Linked DNA regions of Homo sapiens: region 2 is linked to region 1. Evidence: fine-mapped expression QTL. A gene starts in region 1. The other region holds a variant in brackets. All regions are shown on one strand. Distances are between the middles of the regions.

Region 1 (5,377 bases):
AAGTTTTTCAAACTCCAGCATCAGAAATCCACATGTAGCCCTGGGGCCATCACATTTTCTTGCAGGATGGCATAAGGTTTAACACTTTTGAGTTATTTGAATATACGGGCAACCAACAGTAGGCAAGAGGGTTCTACAGAATGCCAAGAAATCAAACACAGAATTTAGATGAACTGGGCAGAGGCAGGAAGTGACAAAAACTGTTTTAAGAGCTGTTCGGGTAGTCACGGCGGCTCATGCCTGTAATCCCAGCACTTTGGGATGCCGAGGCAGGTGGATCACCTGAGGTCAGGCATTCGAGACCAGCCTAGCCAACATGGTGAAATGAAACCCCATCTCTACTAAAAATACAAAAAATTAGCCGGGCATTGTGCCAGGCGCCTGTAATCCCAGCTACTCGGTAGGCTGAGGCAGGAAAATCGCTTGAACCCGGGAGGTGGAGGTTGCCATGAGCTAAGATCACGCCACTGCACTCCAGCCTGGGCAACAAGAGTGAAAGTCTCAAAAAATTAAAAATAAAAATAAAAAAAGATCTGTTCAAGGAAAAGGGGGCTGCTTCCCAACAGCCGGCTTGAAACATCCCTTGGAATTATATCTGACAGATACGTGTGACAGGAATAACAACAACACAAAAGAATAGGAAACCAAGTTTGATGTAACAGAACTTCAATATGCTTCCCTAGAGCCGTCAAACTTACCTAGAGATGCTAAATACACTTCTGAATCCTGCAAGGGAGCCCAAGGCTTTACAGCTGGCTGGACAGCAAAGTCAGCCACCTCCCTCTGGCCTTCACCTTCAGGGCAAGAATCCACAAAGGAGTCTGAGAATGCATTGTTGGCACCATCTTCTTGTTCAGGATTTGGCAGACAGGAACAAATTTCAGCCCAGAGATCCTGGCCAGATCTTGTGGCTGTAGAGTCAGCGCTCTCAAACATTTTCATTTGGAATCTGAGCTATAAAACAGAAGCTCAAGTGAGTAAGAACTGGCTTTAAGAATACAGCATAAGGTTGAGCACAGTGGCTCACGACTGTAATCCCAACACTTTGGGAAGCCGAGGCAGTCAGATCATTTGAGGCCAGCAGTTCGAGACCAGCCTGGGAAACATGGCAAAATCCCATCTCTACTAAAAATACAAAAATTAGACAGGTGTGGTGGCACATGCCTGTAGTCCCAGCTACTCCGGAGGCTGAGGTAGGAGGATCACCTTAGCCCAGGAGATAGAGGCTGCAGTGAGTGGTGATCACGCCATTGCACTCCAGCCTGGGTGACATTGCGAGGCCCTGTCTCACAAATAAATAAATAAAATAAAAATAAAAATGGAATTCCTACAAGCCATACACAAAAGGCAGATACTGTGATTCCACTTATATAAGGTACCTGAGTAGTCAAATTCATAGATACAGAAAATAGGATGGTGGGAGCTGGGGGCTGGGAGGTAGAAAGAATGGGGAATTACTGTTTAATGGGTACACAGTTTCAGTTTGGGAAAATGAAAAAGTTCTGGAGGTGGATGGTAGTTATGGTTGCACAACAATGTGAACACCACTGAATCATACACACAAAAATAGTTAAAATGGTCAATTTTATGCTACATATATTTTAACACACACACACACACACACACACACACACAAATCTGTAGGGCATTTCCAGGTTGGACAACCAGCCTGCACTTTTCTCCAAAGATCTCCAAAATGCAACAGTTCTATCTCCAGTCAATTAAATTCTGTTTTTTTTTCTTTCTTTCTTTCTTTTTTTTTTTTGAGACAGAGTCTCGCTCTGTCGCCCAGGCTGGAGTGCAGTGGCGCTAACTTGGCTCACTGCAACCTCCGCCTCCCGGGTTCACGCCATTCTCCTGCCTCAGCCTCCCAAATAGCTGGGACTACAGGCACTCGCCACCACGCCCGGCTAATTTTTTGCATTTTTTAGTAAAGACGGGGTTTCACCGTTTAGCCAGGGTGGTCTCGATCTCCTGATCTTGTGATCCGCCCGCCTCGGCCTCCCAAAGTGCTGGGATTACAGGCGTGAGCCACCGCGCCCGGCCCCTAAATTCTGTTTTCAACAGAACACAGACTAAAGGTCTTTCCACAGTTCCATATACATGAAGATCCTGCTTGGTAAAAAGTGTCTGTCAGAGAGTACTGTTACAATGCAAGGGCTGTGTGCTCAGCGCATGCAGTTCAGCCGTATGTCTCATGCTCTTATTTTAATACAATCACTGAAAGGTAGGTATTTTCACCATTTTACAGATGAAAAAACAAGTTCAGAAGGGTAACTTGCTCTAGGGCACATTACTGATATGTGGGGAATCCTTGACAGGAAAACCAGATCTGTGCTGCTCCAGAATCCATGTTTTTATCAAATACCATCCTGCTTGTTTGGAAAATATAACGAAAGCAGCCCAAGCACGGGCAGGTAGGAAAAGCTACGCAAAGAGCCTGGAGGCTTTTATAACTATCTAGGCATATGAGACAGGCTGACACCTTCTTTCAAGAGGAGACTTAGAAATCAGGAAGGCTGCCTGAGGCAAGGTCTGAATAATGCCAGGAGACAGAGCCCAGCCAGCGTAAAGGCCGGAAGTAAAAGGGACAGCTATGACACGGCGGTCCTGGGTGAACTGATGTCTAGCGCTACAGTGAACCCCCAACCCGAATTCGTCTAAAGCCACCCAAAACCAAAACTTTGCTCACACCAGAGCCCCGCATGGCCCCTTACCCCAGGGCAGGGCGTCCAGAACCACGCAGGAAATTCCGGCGTCCAGATCCCAGGCCTCAGTCGCTCAGGTCTCTAGGGCTGTCTGGACGGGATGAATCAGGTCCCAAGGCCTCTATGTGGTATTCCGGGGCCGGGCCAGAGTGGGAGATCCAAAACGCTGGGCACCCCAGCCCCTCCTCACTTACCGTAACAGCTGCCCAGTAAACGCTTGGCTCAGCTCTGTCGCCTGTAGCCCGGAGGAAATCGGGAGGGGCGGAGTCCCCTAGTGACGGAGCCCAGGAGTCCTCCAACTACCTTCCCACCCGACGATGTTCTGTGCGTCGATTGGTCGAGAGGAGCTCAGCGTGGTGAAGAAGTGAGGAGCAGCAAGAGGCGAGCGGTGGACGGGGCTCTGGTTGCCGGGAAACGGTGGAGTCACGTGCCCTGAGCATTGCCCCTCCCCTCCCGAGGGCCAGGTTGATTCCTTGCAGATCCAGGGTTCCAGTCCCTGCTTGGATAGGGAAGTCGTTTCCAAGACTTTTGACTTTTCCTAGTCGCCGGAGCCAGTTCACCTCCTCCACAACTTTCTCTGTCGGTGTTTGTCTTCTAAAAATTTCACCCCTTCGTTACCCAAATTAGAGCACTTCGGCGGCTTCTTTCCTTACTCTCCCAGGAGACTCGTGTCTCATTCATCAAATTATGAAGCTTTCCTTCATTCATTTAGTCAATAGATACCAAGCACCTGCTGTGTTCTAAGCATTGTGTTAAGCGTGAAGTTAAGACACATATGACTTGATATAAGTCCTGGAGATCCTTACAGCTTAGTAGTGTAGGAAGGGGGTCCGCCATGGAGGCATAAAAGTTTACAAATAACAGTAAACAGTGATAGACAGCCGGGCGCGGTGACTCACGCCTGTAATCCCAGTACTCTAGGAGGCCGAGGCAGGTGGATCACCTGAGGTCAGGAGTTCGAGACCAGCCTGGGTGAAACATGGTGAAACTCTGTCTCTACTAAAAGTACAAAAATTAGCTGAGCATGGTGGCACATGCCTGGAATCCTAGCTATTCGGGAGGCTCAGGCAGGAGAATCGCTTGAACCGGGAAGGCAGAGGTTGCAGTGAGACAAGATCGCACCACTGCATTCCAACCTGGGCAACAGAGCAAGACTGTCTCAAAAAAAAAAAAGGAGGGGGGCGTTGAGGATTATAGAGTATATGATGGAAGTGTGGCCAGAGTACATAAAGGAGAGAGTGGTCATAAGAAGTGTGTGTCAGAATGCTTTGTTGTTGTAGTTGTTAAAGGAGATGACCTTTGATATCCTTCAGGGGATAGATACCAGCTTGTTCATTGAGATCGACCCCTCCCCATCCCCAGCTTCCAGGATCAACACCAGTTACTCTCTCCCAAGAAACACGTGATGAAAGACATCAGCCAACCATCAGTAGCCAAGTAACTTGGCTGAGGAAATAGTTCTCACTCCAGCCTGGGTGACAGAGCAAGACTCCGTCTCAAAAAAAAAAAGAAAGAAAGAAAAAGAAAACAACAACAACAAAAACAACATAGTTTTAGGATTACAGATGTGAGCCACTGCGCCCAGCTAAAATACAATTTAAAATTCAGTTCCTGGCCGGGCTTGGTGGCTCATGCCTGTAATCCCAGAATTTTGGGAGGCTGAGGGGGTGTGGATCACCTGAGATCAGCAGTTCGAGACCAGCCTGGCCAACATGGTGAAACCCTGTTTCTACTAAAAATACAAAAATTAACTGGGCGTGGAGGCGCATGCCTGTAATCCCAGCTACTCAGGAGGCTGAGGTAGGAGAACTACTTGAACCCAGGAGGCGGAGGTTGCGCCACCACATCCGGCCTGTAATCCTAACACTTTGGGAGGCCAAGGTGGATGGATTGTTTGAGCCCAGTTTGAGACCACCCTAGGCAATGTGGCAAAACCTCGTCTCTACTAAAAATACAAAAAATTAGCCAGTCATGGTGGCACATGTCTGTCGTCTCAGCTACTAGGGAGCCTGAGGTGGGAGGATCACTTCAGTTTGGGAAGTCAAGGCTGCAGTGAGCCAAAATCGTGCCACTGCACTCCAGCCTGGGTGATGGGAGTGAGATCTTGTTTCAAAACTTGTTAAAATTTTAATTAATTTAAATTTAATTAGCCACATGTGGCTATTGTACAGCACATGGCTAATGGTGATCCTATTGTATAGCACAGGATTGGAGAATATTACATAGTTCACAGAACCTCAAGGTGAGTGGAGAGTCAGGCTTTAGGTCTATACAGCCAGGGACAGTATCTGAATCTCACTGAGAGACTGCTCAGGGAACACCCCACAGCCACTGAACATCTATAGCTGGCATTATTCGTCGATTGGGTACTTGACACAAGAACCTCCCCGACTGTTGGCCTCCCAGATTAGATGCCTCCAATGCTACCTTGTTAGACACGGATTTCACACTGAGCCTGCTTCCGCGGCTGTGTGCCTCTGAACCAAAGCCTCTGTCTAAGAGATAGAGCCCAGGTCAAATGCCTATGTCCAAGCTGCAAGAGAGTGTGGGAAGGCTCTGGCTTCTACCTTTTGGGGGCAGTAATGAAATGTGAGAAATTCCCCACCCAAAAGAAGGGTGTTCGGAAGATGCTGGATGTTTACAGAATATGACAAATGTCTACTCTACAT
Region 2 (5,377 bases), 34 kb before region 1:
CGTGGATTAATGGGTTACTGTGGGAGGGGAGCTGGTGGCTTTATAAGAAGAGGAAGAGAGACCTGAGCTAGCACATTAGCACGTTCAGCCCCCTCACCATGTGGTGCTGTGCTCTGCCTTGGGACGCTGAAGAGAGTTCCCACCAGCAAGAAGGCTCTCACCAGATACAGCCCCTTGACCTTGGACTTCTCAGCCTCCATAAGAGTAAGAAATACACTTCTTTTCTTTATAAATTGCTCAGTTTTAGATATTCTGTTATAAGCAACAGAAAACAGACTAAGATACCAGGTATCAAGATTGTACCCATTCATTCCGCTACTACTAGTGTACAAGAAGGCCCTTTCCCCTACTCCCTGTGGCCTATCTTCAGTAATTTTGTCAATTTGATAGATAAAAATGGGCAATAATCTTTTCAACAGAAATCAGCCTCAGCGGTCGATACTGACTGAGCAGTTTACAACCTTCAGCACAGGGCACTTCTAAAGTGTAAACTGAGAGAGGCGAAGCTCTGGCCGCTCTCATGGGGAAGATTCGGATTTGGCTAACACTTGCACGGTCAGTCATGTACGTTCACACACTTGGTCTTCTTTCTCCCTCACCACCACCCTCTAAGGTAAATGTCATTATCTCATTTTTTCAGATGAGGAAACAGGCCCAGAGAGACTAACTTCTCTAAATCAAAAAGTTAAGAAGTAACAGCCCAGGGGGTGGGGGAGTCTGAGAGTGAAGGGAAGAGTAGCAGAGGCAAGGCCATCATTAACCCTGGAGCTTGCGTGGAGCCAGGACTGGGTCTCAAGGCAAGGCCAGACCAAGGGAGGAGTGGAGGAGGGAATGACATGAAATTCTTTGCCATGGGATGCAGACTGTGGAATCTGTTTTGCCTGTGCTCAAGGCTTGTCCTGGTTGGGCATGAGGTAGAGGCTGCAAAGAGTCCAGGGCCCTCAAATCCAGGGAGGGGAAGACACCAGGTCTGGTAATGCAGAAGGCCTGAGGAGAGATTGGGCAGGGATGTTACCCTGGTGATGACGGAGGTGGGTTGGAGTTGATTATATGGGTGCAGGCCTTGTCCACAAGCGAATGGGAAACTTCTTCCGTCCTCCTAGCTGGCCTGCCCAAAGCCCTTAGCACAGATCCCATTTCTCAAAAAACTATTAAAAAAAAGAGAAGAAAAGAAAAGTAAAAGAAAACCCCTCAACAGTCCTCTTTGCATAATGGTGGCTCTGAGCCTGGGATTTCCAAGGACAGACTCGTGTCTAACCACCTCTGGCTCCAGCACGTGCTGAGTGGTATTCAGCGCTCAGCATTCTGAAGAAATATTTTCAGCAGTCTTTCGGTGGGGACCCAGTAGGCAGCTAAGTGCCTTTGTCTGGAGATTCTCTTCCCTGGTGAAGGTCAGCTCAGCTGGACAGGCTTCCAGGGTCACAGAAACCTCTGTGGACCCACACGTACACTAGAAGCTGCCGCTCTGCAGGGGTGGCTTCATCTCAGCCCCTTTTCCCACACAACCTTGGTGCACAATATGCTACTCTCTGCCAGGGGTCTTAAGGGGAAGCTTAACACATGGCAGCATCACTGGAGTGGTGGTTTGCCGGTGTTTTCAGATGACAGAGGTCCGAAGAATACAGAAAAGGGCCTTGCATCCTGAACCTGGTGAAATTGTGGCCCAGGATCACAGGAAAAGAGCACACCTTTCCTCAGTCTTTTTATTTGTGAAAATAGTACAAATAATAGAAACTCTATTCTTTGGTTGGTTATGTGTTTATTCTTAGGAAATGCGTTTATATGCAGAGAGAAAAAGCAGAGGGAGAGAGAGCAAGCACATGCACATAATGTGGTAACGTCAGTGAATCTGGGGAAAAGGTATTTGGAAATTCCTTGTACATTCAACTTTTCTGTAAGTTTGAAATTGTATCAAAATAAAAAGTGAGTACTCTCTTCCCGCAGTGCATATACTAAAATTGGAACATACAGAGATTAGCATGGCCCCTGCGCAAGGATGATCAGATGGTTTGGATGGTTTTTTTTTTTTTTTTTTTTGAGACGGAGTCTCGCTCTATCGCCCAGGCTGGAGTGCAGTGGCGCGATCTCGGCTCACTGCAAACTCCGCCTCCCGGGTTCACACCATTCTTCTGCCTCAGCCTCCTGAGTAGCTGGGACTACAGGCACCCGCCACTGCGCCTGGCTAATTTTTTGTGTTTTTAGTAGAGACGGGGTTTCAGTGTGTTAGCCAGGATGGTCTCGATCTCCTGACCTTGTGATCTGCCTGCCTCGGCCTCCCAAAGTGCTGGGATTACAGGTGTGAGCCACTGCGCCCAGCCGGTTGGGATGCTTTGTCCCTTCCAAATCT[C/T]GTGTTAAAATGTGACCTCAGGCCGGGCGTGATGGCTCACACCTGCAATCCCAGCGTTTTGGGAGACCAAGGTGGGTGGATCACCTGAGGTCAGGAGTTCGAGACCAGCCTGGCCAACATGGTGAAACCCCATCTCTACTAAAAATACAAAAAGTGAGCCAGGCGTGGTGGCACATGCCTGTAATCCCAGCTACTTGGGAGGCTGAGGCAGGAGAACTACTTGAACCTGGGAGGTAGAGGTCGCAGTGAGCCAAGATTGTGCCATTGCACTCCAGCCTGGGCAACGAGCGAAACTACATCTCAAAAAAAAAAAAAAAAAAAGTGACCTCCAATGTTGGAGGTGGGCCTAATGGGAGATGTTTGGGTCATGGGAGCAGATGCCTCATGAATGGCTTGGTACTGTCCTTATGGTAGTGAGTGAGCTCTCACTCTGAGTTCACGTGAGATCTGGTTGTTTAAAAGAGCCTGGCACCTCCTCTCTCTTTTTCTCTCTCTCTCCCTCTCTCTCTCTCTCTGGTTGTTTAAAAGAGCCTGGCACCTCCTCTCTCTCTCTCTTGCTTGGTCCCTCTCTTGCCATGTGACACACTAGGTCCGCTTTGCCTTCCACCATGATTGTAAGCTTCCTGAGGCCTCACCAGCAGCAGATGCTGGTGCCATGCTTCTCATACAGCCTGTAGAACCGTAAGCCAAATAAACCACTTTTCTTTATAAATTACCCAGTCTCAGGTATTCCTTTTTTTTTTTTTTGAGACAGGATCTCACTCTGTCACCCAGGCTGGAGTGCAGTGGCACAATCTTGGAACTGACTCCCGGGCTCAAGTGATACTCCCACCTTAGTTAGCTTCCTGGGTAGCTGGGATTATAGGCGTGCGCCACCACCCGGCTAATTTTTGTATTTTTTGTAGAAACAGGGTTTTGCCATGTTGCCCAGGCTGGTCTTGAACTCCTGAGCTCAAGCAATCCACCCATCTCAGCCTTCAAAAGTGCTGGGTTTACAGGCATGGGCCACCGCACCTGGCCAGATATTCCTTTAGAGCAATGCAAAGTGGACTGATACAGATGACATGCAAATTTGTGAAGTGTTCCATATTTTTTACTGCATGTTCTCATTTATAAGTGGGAGCTAAATGTGTACACATGAACACAGAGTGTGGAATAGTAGACACTGGAGACTTGGGAGGGTAGGAGGGTGGGAGGTGGGTGAAGGATAGGAAATCAGGGGGTACAATGTGCATTATTTAGATGATGGTTACACTAAAAGCCCAGACTTCAACACTGTGTAATATATCTATGTAACAAAACTTCACCTATACCCCTTAAATTTATATTTCTTTTTTTTTATTTTTTTTTTGAGACAGAGTCTCACTCTGTCACCCAGGCTGGAGTGCAGTGGCGGGACCTCGGCTCACTGCAACCTCCGCCTCCCAGGTTCAAGCGATTCTCCTGCCTCAGCTTCCCGAGTAGCTGATATTACAGGTGTGAGCCACCGTGCCTGGCCAAATTTATATTTTTAAAAAGTAACAAAAAGAATTACAAAAACCAGAGGAGCATTTTTAGGTAAATTAATCTTCATTCCCACAAGACTAGCGCAAGATTGGGTTTAAATTTTGCATAGATTTTGATTTTTGTTGTTGTTGTTGTTTGAGACAGGGTCTTGCTCTGTCACCAAGGCTGGAATGCAGAGGCATGATCACCACTCTCTGCAGCCTCAACCTCCTGAGCTCAAGCAATCCTCCTACCTCAGCCTTCCAAGTAGCTGGCACCACAGACACACATCACCACACTTGGCTAATTTTTTTTAGAGATGGGGTCTATGTTGCTCAGGCTGCTCTCAAACTCCTGACTCAAGCGATCCACCCACCTCGGCTTCCTAAAGATTTTGTGTTTTTTTTTTAAATATGAAAAGACATGTTATTATTATTATTAGTGCATACACCAGATTGCACTGTCTCCAATGGCAAATGAGGCAGAGGGTAATATTTCTCTTTAATTCCCCAAGAACCTCAATATCATCTGTCTTCTGGAGGTTCCGGTTTCTTCTGACATCTGTGCTAATGTCCACGAAGATGCCAACCGTACTTAGCATAAAGAACATTTTGCTAAGTTGTTCTATTATGGGTTCTCGCTCAAGGTGTTCACTTTTTTCTTCTCTAGTTTTCAGCACTTGACCATGTGTTTCTTCATTATTATACACAGGATCTGGTCAAGGGATAGGTTTTGTGCGTTCATATGGAATGTCTATAGAAGGATGGTAACATACTATTGTCCTGGCATCAGGTGTCAAAGCAAATTCTACTTTGCAATTGTAGTCACCTGGAAAAGAAGAGTACGTAGATTTATGACAAACATAAGGCTCCATTTTGGATTGAAGATAAATGTTTCCAGATAGTTCTCTTTGATATCACCCGTCTTACTGCTGCTACTGCCATGTAGCAAGACACTTATCAGGTAGTATGAAAAAAGATGCTTCAAAGAGAATCTGCTTCTGGGCACATTAATTTTCATCCCTGCTTCACAGCTGTTCACCATGAGCCCATCATCTTGTCTCCTTATTTTTGCATAGATCTTAAATTATTTTTACCCAGTTGTAATCATGGACAAATTTGTAGTCTGCTTTTTTTCACTTAACATTAGTTATAAACTGTTCCATACTGCTGCATATTCTTTGTAATTATAATTTTAATGATTTATAATTTAATTGTTTTACTTGAATTTGTTTTCTTTCTTTTTTTTTTTTTTTTTTTTTTTTTGAGAGAGAATCTCACTCTGTCACCCAGGCTGGAATGCAGTGGCATGATCACAGATCACTGCAGCCTCGACTTCCCGGGTTCAGTTGATCCTCCCACTTCAGGCTGGCGCGTGCCACCAGACCTGGCTAATTTTTTTTATTTTTTGTAGAGGTAGGGGGTTTCACCATGTTGCCCAGGCTGGTCTCAAACTCCTGTGCTCAAGCAATCCTCCTGCCTCAGCTTCTCAAAGTGTTGGGATTACAGGCATGAGCCATTGCACCTGGCCAATTTACAATATTAT

The links. PIP is the estimated chance that this variant, and not a neighbour inherited with it, causes the effect. A credible set is the group of variants that fine-mapping cannot tell apart.
Region 2: its variant is the best candidate, but not a certain one, in a credible set for the expression of CCDC32 in whole blood (TOPMed, PIP 0.56).

What each region holds. Positions count from the first base shown.
Region 1 is chr15:40,562,074-40,567,450 of GRCh38, forward strand. CCDC32 (coiled-coil domain containing 32) reads right to left here and starts at 2,969. Exons shown (of 4, transcript NM_001080792.4): 1 at 2,903-2,969; 2 at 699-954. The coding sequence starts at 942. RefSeq lists enhancers at 3,368-3,417, 3,897-4,191 and a silencer at 5,144-5,323.
Region 2 is chr15:40,527,643-40,533,019 of GRCh38, forward strand. It overlaps a transcript of CCDC32 not described here, the pseudogene RNU6-516P and the pseudogene MRPL42P5. Among named protein-coding and RNA genes, the nearest start is that of CCDC32, 35 kb to the right of the region's middle. The variant C/T (reference allele first, on the strand shown) is at 2,348.